Linked DNA regions of Homo sapiens. The protein of the gene in region 1 interacts with the protein of each later gene in a pairwise test. Each region holds a gene or a part of one and is shown in the gene's direction. Other genes may lie near its edges.

The links.
Region 2: the proteins of TMEM201 (region 1) and SLC26A6 interact in binary tests that used the Homo sapiens proteins (3 or more experiments, as listed by UniProt).

Annotation. Positions count from the first base shown.
Region 1 is NC_000001.11:9,586,706-9,590,614, forward strand, and holds the start of TMEM201 (transmembrane protein 201), read left to right. Parts: upstream 1-2,205; 5' UTR 2,206-2,225; coding exon 2,226-2,338; intron 2,339-2,650; exon of another isoform or gene 2,651-2,893; intron 2,894-2,901; exon of another isoform or gene 2,902-3,065; intron 3,066-3,909. UniProt on the Homo sapiens protein: Critical regulator of angiogenesis and endothelial cell (EC) migration. Promotes the migration of endothelial cells, which is essential for angiogenesis.
Region 2 is NC_000003.12:48,628,823-48,632,484, reverse strand, and holds part of SLC26A6 (solute carrier family 26 member 6), read left to right. Parts: intron 1-88; coding exon 89-240; intron 241-392; coding exon of another isoform or gene 393-440; coding exon 441-605; intron 606-683; coding exon 684-836; intron 837-1,178; coding exon 1,179-1,261; intron 1,262-1,344; coding exon 1,345-1,492; intron 1,493-1,764; coding exon 1,765-1,878; intron 1,879-1,969; coding exon 1,970-2,047; intron 2,048-2,327; coding exon 2,328-2,423; intron 2,424-2,506; coding exon 2,507-2,613; intron 2,614-2,773; coding exon 2,774-2,843; intron 2,844-3,662. UniProt on the Homo sapiens protein: Apical membrane anion-exchanger with wide epithelial distribution that plays a role as a component of the pH buffering system for maintaining acid-base homeostasis.

The DNA of each region.
Region 1 (3,909 bases):
TGCATGGAAAGGCTTTTGCTGGGATACTCACAAGAAAGAGGAGGTCCAGACCCAAGTGAACCTCCAGGTTTCCTGTCTGCTTCACTTTCCAGTCCCCCTTCCCCCCAGTGAATGTGCATGATTCCGGTGTGGACAGAGGAACTGGCTGCAGGAGCAAAAAAACATTTGCCCTCAATCCATCACTACCCACAAAGAGTTTACAATGTTAACCTCAAAAAAAAAAAAGTGATCAGAACACTGGAACATAGTGTGTAATTAGATACAAATATTTTCTGTTTACTTTTTTAAAACTAGTAATTTAGCTGAAATCAATAATGAAACACAGTGACTCTTCCCCTTGAATCTCCTCCCACCACCAGGTAATCAGTTTGCAGTTCAGTGTTAACTATTCTCCACTTCCCACAAGCACATAAGGCTTTATTTAAGCTTTGGATATTATTTAAAAATCAATCTGCATGTTGCTTTTTCTTTTTCTTTTTCTTTTTTTTTTTTTTTTTGAGATGGAGTCTCACTCTGTTGCCAGGCTGGAGTGCAGTGACGCAACCTCAGCTCGCTGCAACCTCCGCCTCCTGGGTTCAAGCAATTCTCCTGCCTTAGCCTCCCATGTAGCTGGGACTACAGGCGCCCACCACCACACCCAGCTAATTTTTGTATTTTTAGTGGAGACCAGGTTTCACCATGTTGGTCAGGATGGTCTCCAGCTCCTGACCTTGTGATCCGCCTGCCTCGGCCTCCCAAAATGCTGGAATTACAGGCGTGAGCCACCATGTGCCCGGCCTGCATGTTGCTTTTTTGTTGTCGTTTTTGTTTTTTCAGAAGGAGTCTCCTGTCACCAGGCTGGAATGCAGCGGCACAATCTTGACTCGTTGCAACCTCCGCCTCCCAGGTTCAAGCGATTCTTGTGCCTCAGCTTCCCGAGTAGCTGGGATTACAGGTGTGCACCACCACGCCCGGCTAATTTTTGTATTTTCAGTAGAGATGGGGTTTCACCATGTTGCCCAGGCTGGTCTTGAACTTCTGACCTCAGGTGATCCGCCCGCCTCGGCCTCCCAAAGTGCTGGAATTACAGGTGTGAGCCACCGCGCCCTGCCTGCATGTTGCTTTTTAAAAACAATGTATCATCCATCTATGCCAATAACTCCAGATCTGGCTTTCTTTTCTTTTCTTCCTTTCTTTCTTTCCTTCTTTCCTTCCTTCTTTCCTTTCTTCCTTCCTTCCTTCTTTCTCTCTCTCTCTCTTTCCTTGCCTTTCCTTTCTTTTTTGAGAAGGAGTCTCGCTTTTGTCGCCCAGGCTGGAGTGCAGTGGCGCGATCTCGGCTCACTGCAAGCTTCGCCTCCCGGGTTCACGCCATTCTCCTGCCTCAGCCTCCCGAGTAGCTGGGACTACAGGCGCCCGCCACCACGCCCGGCTAATTTTTTGTATTTTTAGTAGAGAGGGGGTTTCACCGTGTTAGCCAGGATGGTCTCGATCTCCTGACCTCGTGATCCGCCCGCCTCGGCCTCTCAAAGTGCTGGGATTACAGGCGTGAGCCACCGCGCCCTGCCTGGATCTGGCATTCTTTCTAATGGTTGCATTATGTTCCGAACTATGGCTGTCCTATGATTTATTCAACCATGTCCCTATCCGTGGATGATCGTGTTTCTAAAAAGCTAGTTTTTCAACCATTAGAGCGGCTCAAGGAGCTGCTAAACAGCACTGGGCGCATAGGCTGGGTTTGACTAGACAGGATTAGCGAGGGGGAAAAAGACTAATTACAAGCAGTTGCGTACTCTGGAGATGCTCCCCTTAGCAGAAGCTCGGTGGACTGTCTGCAGCCAGACCTCCGGGCCTGGCGGCTGGCGCGGGAGGCAGAAGGCGGGGCTTTCCTACAGGGCTCCGTGCCCCGCCCTCCCCGCGCCGCCTTCCACCTCCGGCCGCGCGGGGGCGCTCCCCGGCCGGCTCTGTCGCTTCCGCCGCCGCCCCGCCCACCCGGGCTCACCCCTCGTCCCGATTGGCTGCGCGACGGGAGCGCGCCGAGTCAGGGGGCGGGCCCGCGCCCGCTACAAAGCGGCGAAGGTCACGGCGCGAGGAGGCGCGCGTCGCCGCCCCGCGTCCCGCCTGCGGCCCGCGCCCCCGGCGTCACCGCCTCCTGCCCGCCTGCCCGCCTGCCCGCCTGCCCGCCTACCCGCCTACCCGCCTACCCGCCTACCCCCCTGCCGGCCTGCCGTCCTTCCACGCGGAGAGCCATGGAGGGAGTGAGCGCGCTGCTGGCCCGCTGCCCCACGGCCGGCCTGGCCGGCGGCCTGGGGGTCACGGCGTGCGCCGCGGCCGGCGTGTTGCTCTACCGGATCGCGCGGAGGTGAGTGCATGGTTCGGCCCCACGCGGCCCTCTGCGCCGCCCGCCAGGCCCGCCCCCGCGCCGCCCCGGCCCGCTGCCCCCCTCGGCCGGGACCCGGGCTGCCCGCGGGCGCGCGGAGACCCCCGGCGCGCGCCGCCGCCCCCCGAGACCGGGTTGAGACTGCAGTCGGGAAGCGGCTGCGGAGTCGAGTGGAGCGGCGGGGACTCCGGGAACGTGGGGCGCGGGCGAGAGCGCCGCGCGGGGGCCACAAACTTCCTCCGGGAGCCGCGGGGGGCTGGAGCCGGTGCGCACGGGCCGCCCCTGCCCTCAGCCCCGTGCTGGGCCCCGGTGCACGGCGATGCTGGCGATCGCGGCTGGCGGTTGCTGCTCGGCATGTGACGTCCCGGGCGTTTTTCTACACGCCTCGCATCCGCGCGTTTCAGAGCCACAGCCCCTGCTTACGCTAGAGCAGCTGAGGGACAGGGAGGCTCAGTAACTTGCTGTTAATGAGAGGAATCATGGTTTGAGCCGATGGAATCTGCAGGGCAGACCCCGAGGCTGGGCTGCCTCCCAGAGGTGGGCAAGGCCTGAGATGCCTCCAAACAGTTCAAGACGGGCCGGGGCCACCCTCCTCCCTGCCCGGCTCACGGGCCATGCGGGCCCCCGGGTTCAGATCCGGCCTCTTTCATCGGCCTCCATCGCCAGGCATAAAAGCTTAGTGGCCTGTTGCTTCAGCAGAGCCTCGCAGGTAGCTTACTGTTTCTCCACTTGATCCACCTTTCCAGAGGGCAGGGGGGAAAGTGGGGTTGTGAGAACATCCTAGAAAGAGTGGATGGGTTTGCAGCTTCGGCAAGGGATGCAATGAGCTCACACCCTTAGGAAAAAGGGGAGAAGGGACTTGCCCACTCAGCAGCAAGTGGCAGAGCTGGGGTTTGAACCCTGATCGTCTGGCTGGTCTGTTTGTTCTTCCTTAACACATACCGGTGCTGCTTCTCTCCTCCAGGGGGGAAACGGGGAAAAAGAAGTACAGGTGGTTGAGTCACAGAGGCTTCCCAGAGGAGGAAGGCATGGGAGGGACATCAGCTGTGTCTGGAGGATGGGCCAGATGTGACTGAGGAGGGTAGCTGGGGATTGAGTGACCCCAGCCCAGAGGTCCCTGACAACCCAAGTCTCTCCATGTCGGTTTCTGCTGGATTCCTGGAAGTTGAGCATCTGCAGGACCAGCTTGTCCAAGCCGGTGGTTTTATACCCAGGGGACCGAGGTCCAGAGACCTCAGGTGATTTGCTCACATTCCCAGAGCATGTTGCCAGCTGAGCTGGTCCAGCACCCGGTGTTCTTCCTGGACGAAGCCGCCTCTCAGCTAACCCAGGATGGGGGGTGTTGCCTCAAGGATGAGAGCCTGGGGGAGGGGATAGTCTGCCAGCCACACAGCACCTCCGTTGTGTTTATTGAGGCTGGACTTGGACTGGGTGGCTCACTGTGCCACACACTGCAGCTGTCCTCAGGGATGCTGTCTCCCCTTCCTGCCCTGCTGGCCACAGCTCTCCATCTCCTGGAAACAAGAGTCTGGGGCCTTGGAGAGATATTGGGC
Region 2 (3,662 bases), on another chromosome or scaffold:
AAGTCTCCTGGCCTCTCTCTTAAGACCAGGGCTCCAGGGCAGGGCAGTGTCCTCTCCTCTTCAGACCTGCCCCGTGCCGTCCTTACAGGGACCTTTGCTGTCATGTCTGTGATGGTGGGCAGTGTGACAGAATCCCTGGCCCCGCAGGCCTTGAACGACTCCATGATCAATGAGACAGCCAGAGATGCTGCCCGGGTACAGGTGGCCTCCACACTCAGTGTCCTGGTTGGCCTCTTCCAGGTGTGGAACAGTCAGGAGTATGTGCCCCCCACCACCACTTCTGCTCCCGCCACTGTCCTGTCTGTACTCCCCTGAGTGTCTGACCATCGTCGTCCTCCTCTTGCCGTCTACTCATCCCCCTCCCATCCCACTTGCCCTGCGCTCCTCATTAGCAACCCCAGGACCCCTGCCTCTCCTGACTGCCCCTGGCCGCCCCACAGGTGGGGCTGGGCCTGATCCACTTCGGCTTCGTGGTCACCTACCTGTCAGAACCTCTTGTCCGAGGCTATACCACAGCTGCAGCTGTGCAGGTCTTCGTCTCACAGCTCAAGTATGTGTTTGGCCTCCATCTGAGCAGCCACTCTGGGCCACTGTCCCTCATCTATGTGAGTGAGGGTAGGGGGAGGGAGGGGTAGGTGTGCCCCATGGCCTTGAGTGCTAGCTGTGACCTGGCCTCTCCTCAGACAGTGCTGGAGGTCTGCTGGAAGCTGCCCCAGAGCAAGGTTGGCACCGTGGTCACTGCAGCTGTGGCTGGGGTGGTGCTCGTGGTGGTGAAGCTGTTGAATGACAAGCTGCAGCAGCAGCTGCCCATGCCGATACCCGGGGAGCTGCTCACGGTTCGAGGGCCAGGGAGTGGAGGGCAGGGGAGAAGGGCAGGTCAGGCTGGGTCCTTGCCACGTGGGCAGCCTCCTGTATTTGAGGGCCAGCTGGAGGGGGGCTGGGAGGGTTCTTGGGTATTGTGGGGGGCACAGCAGAAAGCCCCTATGTTGGTTTCTTCCTGCCCCTGACAGCATCTCCCCATAGCCGAAATGGTGTTGCCTGTCTCTCACCCTACGTGACTTTTTCCCACCCTCGAAGAAGGTTTTGCCCAGTATCTCCCTCCTCACCTCACAGTGGTTTATGTGTCCCCCTGACCATGGTGCCAGCACCTGCCTCCCTGACTCTGTCCTCTCCCACAGCTCATCGGGGCCACAGGCATCTCCTATGGCATGGGTCTAAAGCACAGATTTGAGGTAGATGTCGTGGGCAACATCCCTGCAGGGTGAGCTCTGGCCTCCATCAGGTCAGGGAGGGTTGGGCAGCCAGGACAGGACCTTGCTTTGGCCTCACAGATACCTCTCACAGGCTGGTGCCCCCAGTGGCCCCCAACACCCAGCTGTTCTCAAAGCTCGTGGGCAGCGCCTTCACCATCGCTGTGGTTGGGTTTGCCATTGCCATCTCACTGGGGAAGATCTTCGCCCTGAGGCACGGCTACCGGGTGGACAGCAACCAGGTCTGGGTGATGCGGGATGTGTAGGAGGCATCCAAGTGTATGGAGGCGCCAGCAACGGGTGGGGGAGGAACCGGTGGGACACAGGGAGACAGCAGATGTGCTGAGGCCACGTGGGGGACTGAGGGTGGGAGAGCAGGACGTGTGGGACAGCATCCAGTCTCTGGGGGCCACTTGGTGGGGATGGAGATTGGGGATGCACAGGCCTAGATACAGTGGAACAGTGACCAGCCACTTCTAGGAAGTCTTCTCACACCCGTACTGTCCCCCGTCAGGAGCTGGTGGCCCTGGGCCTCAGTAACCTTATCGGAGGCATCTTCCAGTGCTTCCCCGTGAGTTGCTCTATGTCTCGGAGCCTGGTACAGGAGAGCACCGGGGGCAACTCGCAGGTGGGCTTTGGGTGTGGGCATGGGTGTGGGCATGCACATTGCTTTGCCTGGGGAAGGAGGTCTCTCCCCTGCTCACTCCCTCCCCGAACAGGTTGCTGGAGCCATCTCTTCCCTTTTCATCCTCCTCATCATTGTCAAACTTGGGGAACTCTTCCATGACCTGCCCAAGGTGAGCCCCCACCCAGCCAGGTTTCAGGTCTTGGCCAGGCCAGGGCTCTCAAATCAGCCAGTCTAGGTTCAGGCGAGGGGTGGGGACACAAGGTTAGGTTCTGTTTTTCAAGGCTGAGATCTTCAAGGTGAGATTTGGAGACAAGGGTCAGGGGCTGGGTGGGGGTTTGTGTCTGGGGTACTGCCTGAGTGCTTGGGCTTAGTCTGGCTTTGCCTCGGTGAGGAGGGTTGTCAGCATCGGGTGCCCTCAATGGCCCCTGGTGGCACTGTCCCCACCCCAGGCGGTCCTGGCAGCCATCATCATTGTGAACCTGAAGGGCATGCTGAGGCAGCTCAGCGACATGCGCTCCCTCTGGAAGGCCAATCGGGCGGATCTGGTGAGTGCACTGGGAGCCCAGGGCAGGGACTGGGCAGCCCCATGGCTCCTCGCCGCCCTCCAACCGCTGCCCTCTGTTCTCAGCTTATCTGGCTGGTGACCTTCACGGCCACCATCTTGCTGAACCTGGACCTTGGCTTGGTGGTTGCGGTCATCTTCTCCCTGCTGCTCGTGGTGGTCCGGACACAGATGTGAGTCCGCCATGTTGGTCCCCTCATTCCAGCTAGTGAGAGAGTACCACAGGGCTCCCCGCAGCTTTCCCCACATCTCTGGGGACTTCAGGCTCCTTCGGACCCCTCTGTTATCCCCTTTTTCTGCCCCCTCTTCGTGCATTCTCTCTCTCCTTCACAGGCCCCACTACTCTGTCCTGGGGCAGGTGCCAGACACGGATATTTACAGAGATGTGGCAGAGTACTCAGAGGTGAGTGTCAGGGGCTGAGTGAGATGGTGTGGATGGGGAGACGGAGGAAGAATGAGCCTTTGTGGATTCGTTCCACACTTGGCCAGGGAACTGGGGGCTGAGGATACTTTGGCTTTGGTCTTTGGGATTTCAAGGGAGGAGTTTAGGTCTATGACCCCCTCTAGAGGTATGAAGGGACAGAGGGAGAGTGGACAGAGATGGGTCTGGGGCTGGGGAGGGGTCTGTCGTGGAGTCAACAGCACAAGCTCCACCTGCAGAGCAGCCGTGGGTCAGAGAGCCGGAATGGCAGCTCCCTGGGGCGCCAGGTTGGAAGGGAGGCATTTCCTGATCTGATCAGTGGGGTTACTAAGTCCTCAGTCATCCATTTATCTCCTGAGAGGTCTTGGGCCAAGTGCTAGGAACATAGGTGGGGGGCTCTGGAATAAAACAAGGCTGTTGCCTGCAACATGGGCACAGTGCAATTAGGCAGTGCGGGGAGGAATTAAGGGGTCTGAGACATGGGAGAGGATGAGGGGGCAGCCCAGCCCTTACCATGCATGCCTGGAGCCCAGCAGAGACCCGGGCTGTGACCCGAATGGGGTGGGAGCGGGGAAGGTCTGATTGATATGACAGCCTAGGAGGACCTCTGTCTGGGTGCAGAAAACAGAACACAAGGCAGGGGTTGGAAACCCAAGAGAAAGGTTAAGAGCCTGTGAAGCCTGCCTGGGTGGTGGCAGGAGAGGTGGGGAGGGAGAGGCACTGTGGGGGGATGGGGATGACACCGTCGGGCTTGTGGCCTAAGCCCCTGGGAGGGCCTGGACTGCAGCCTGGGGAGCAGAG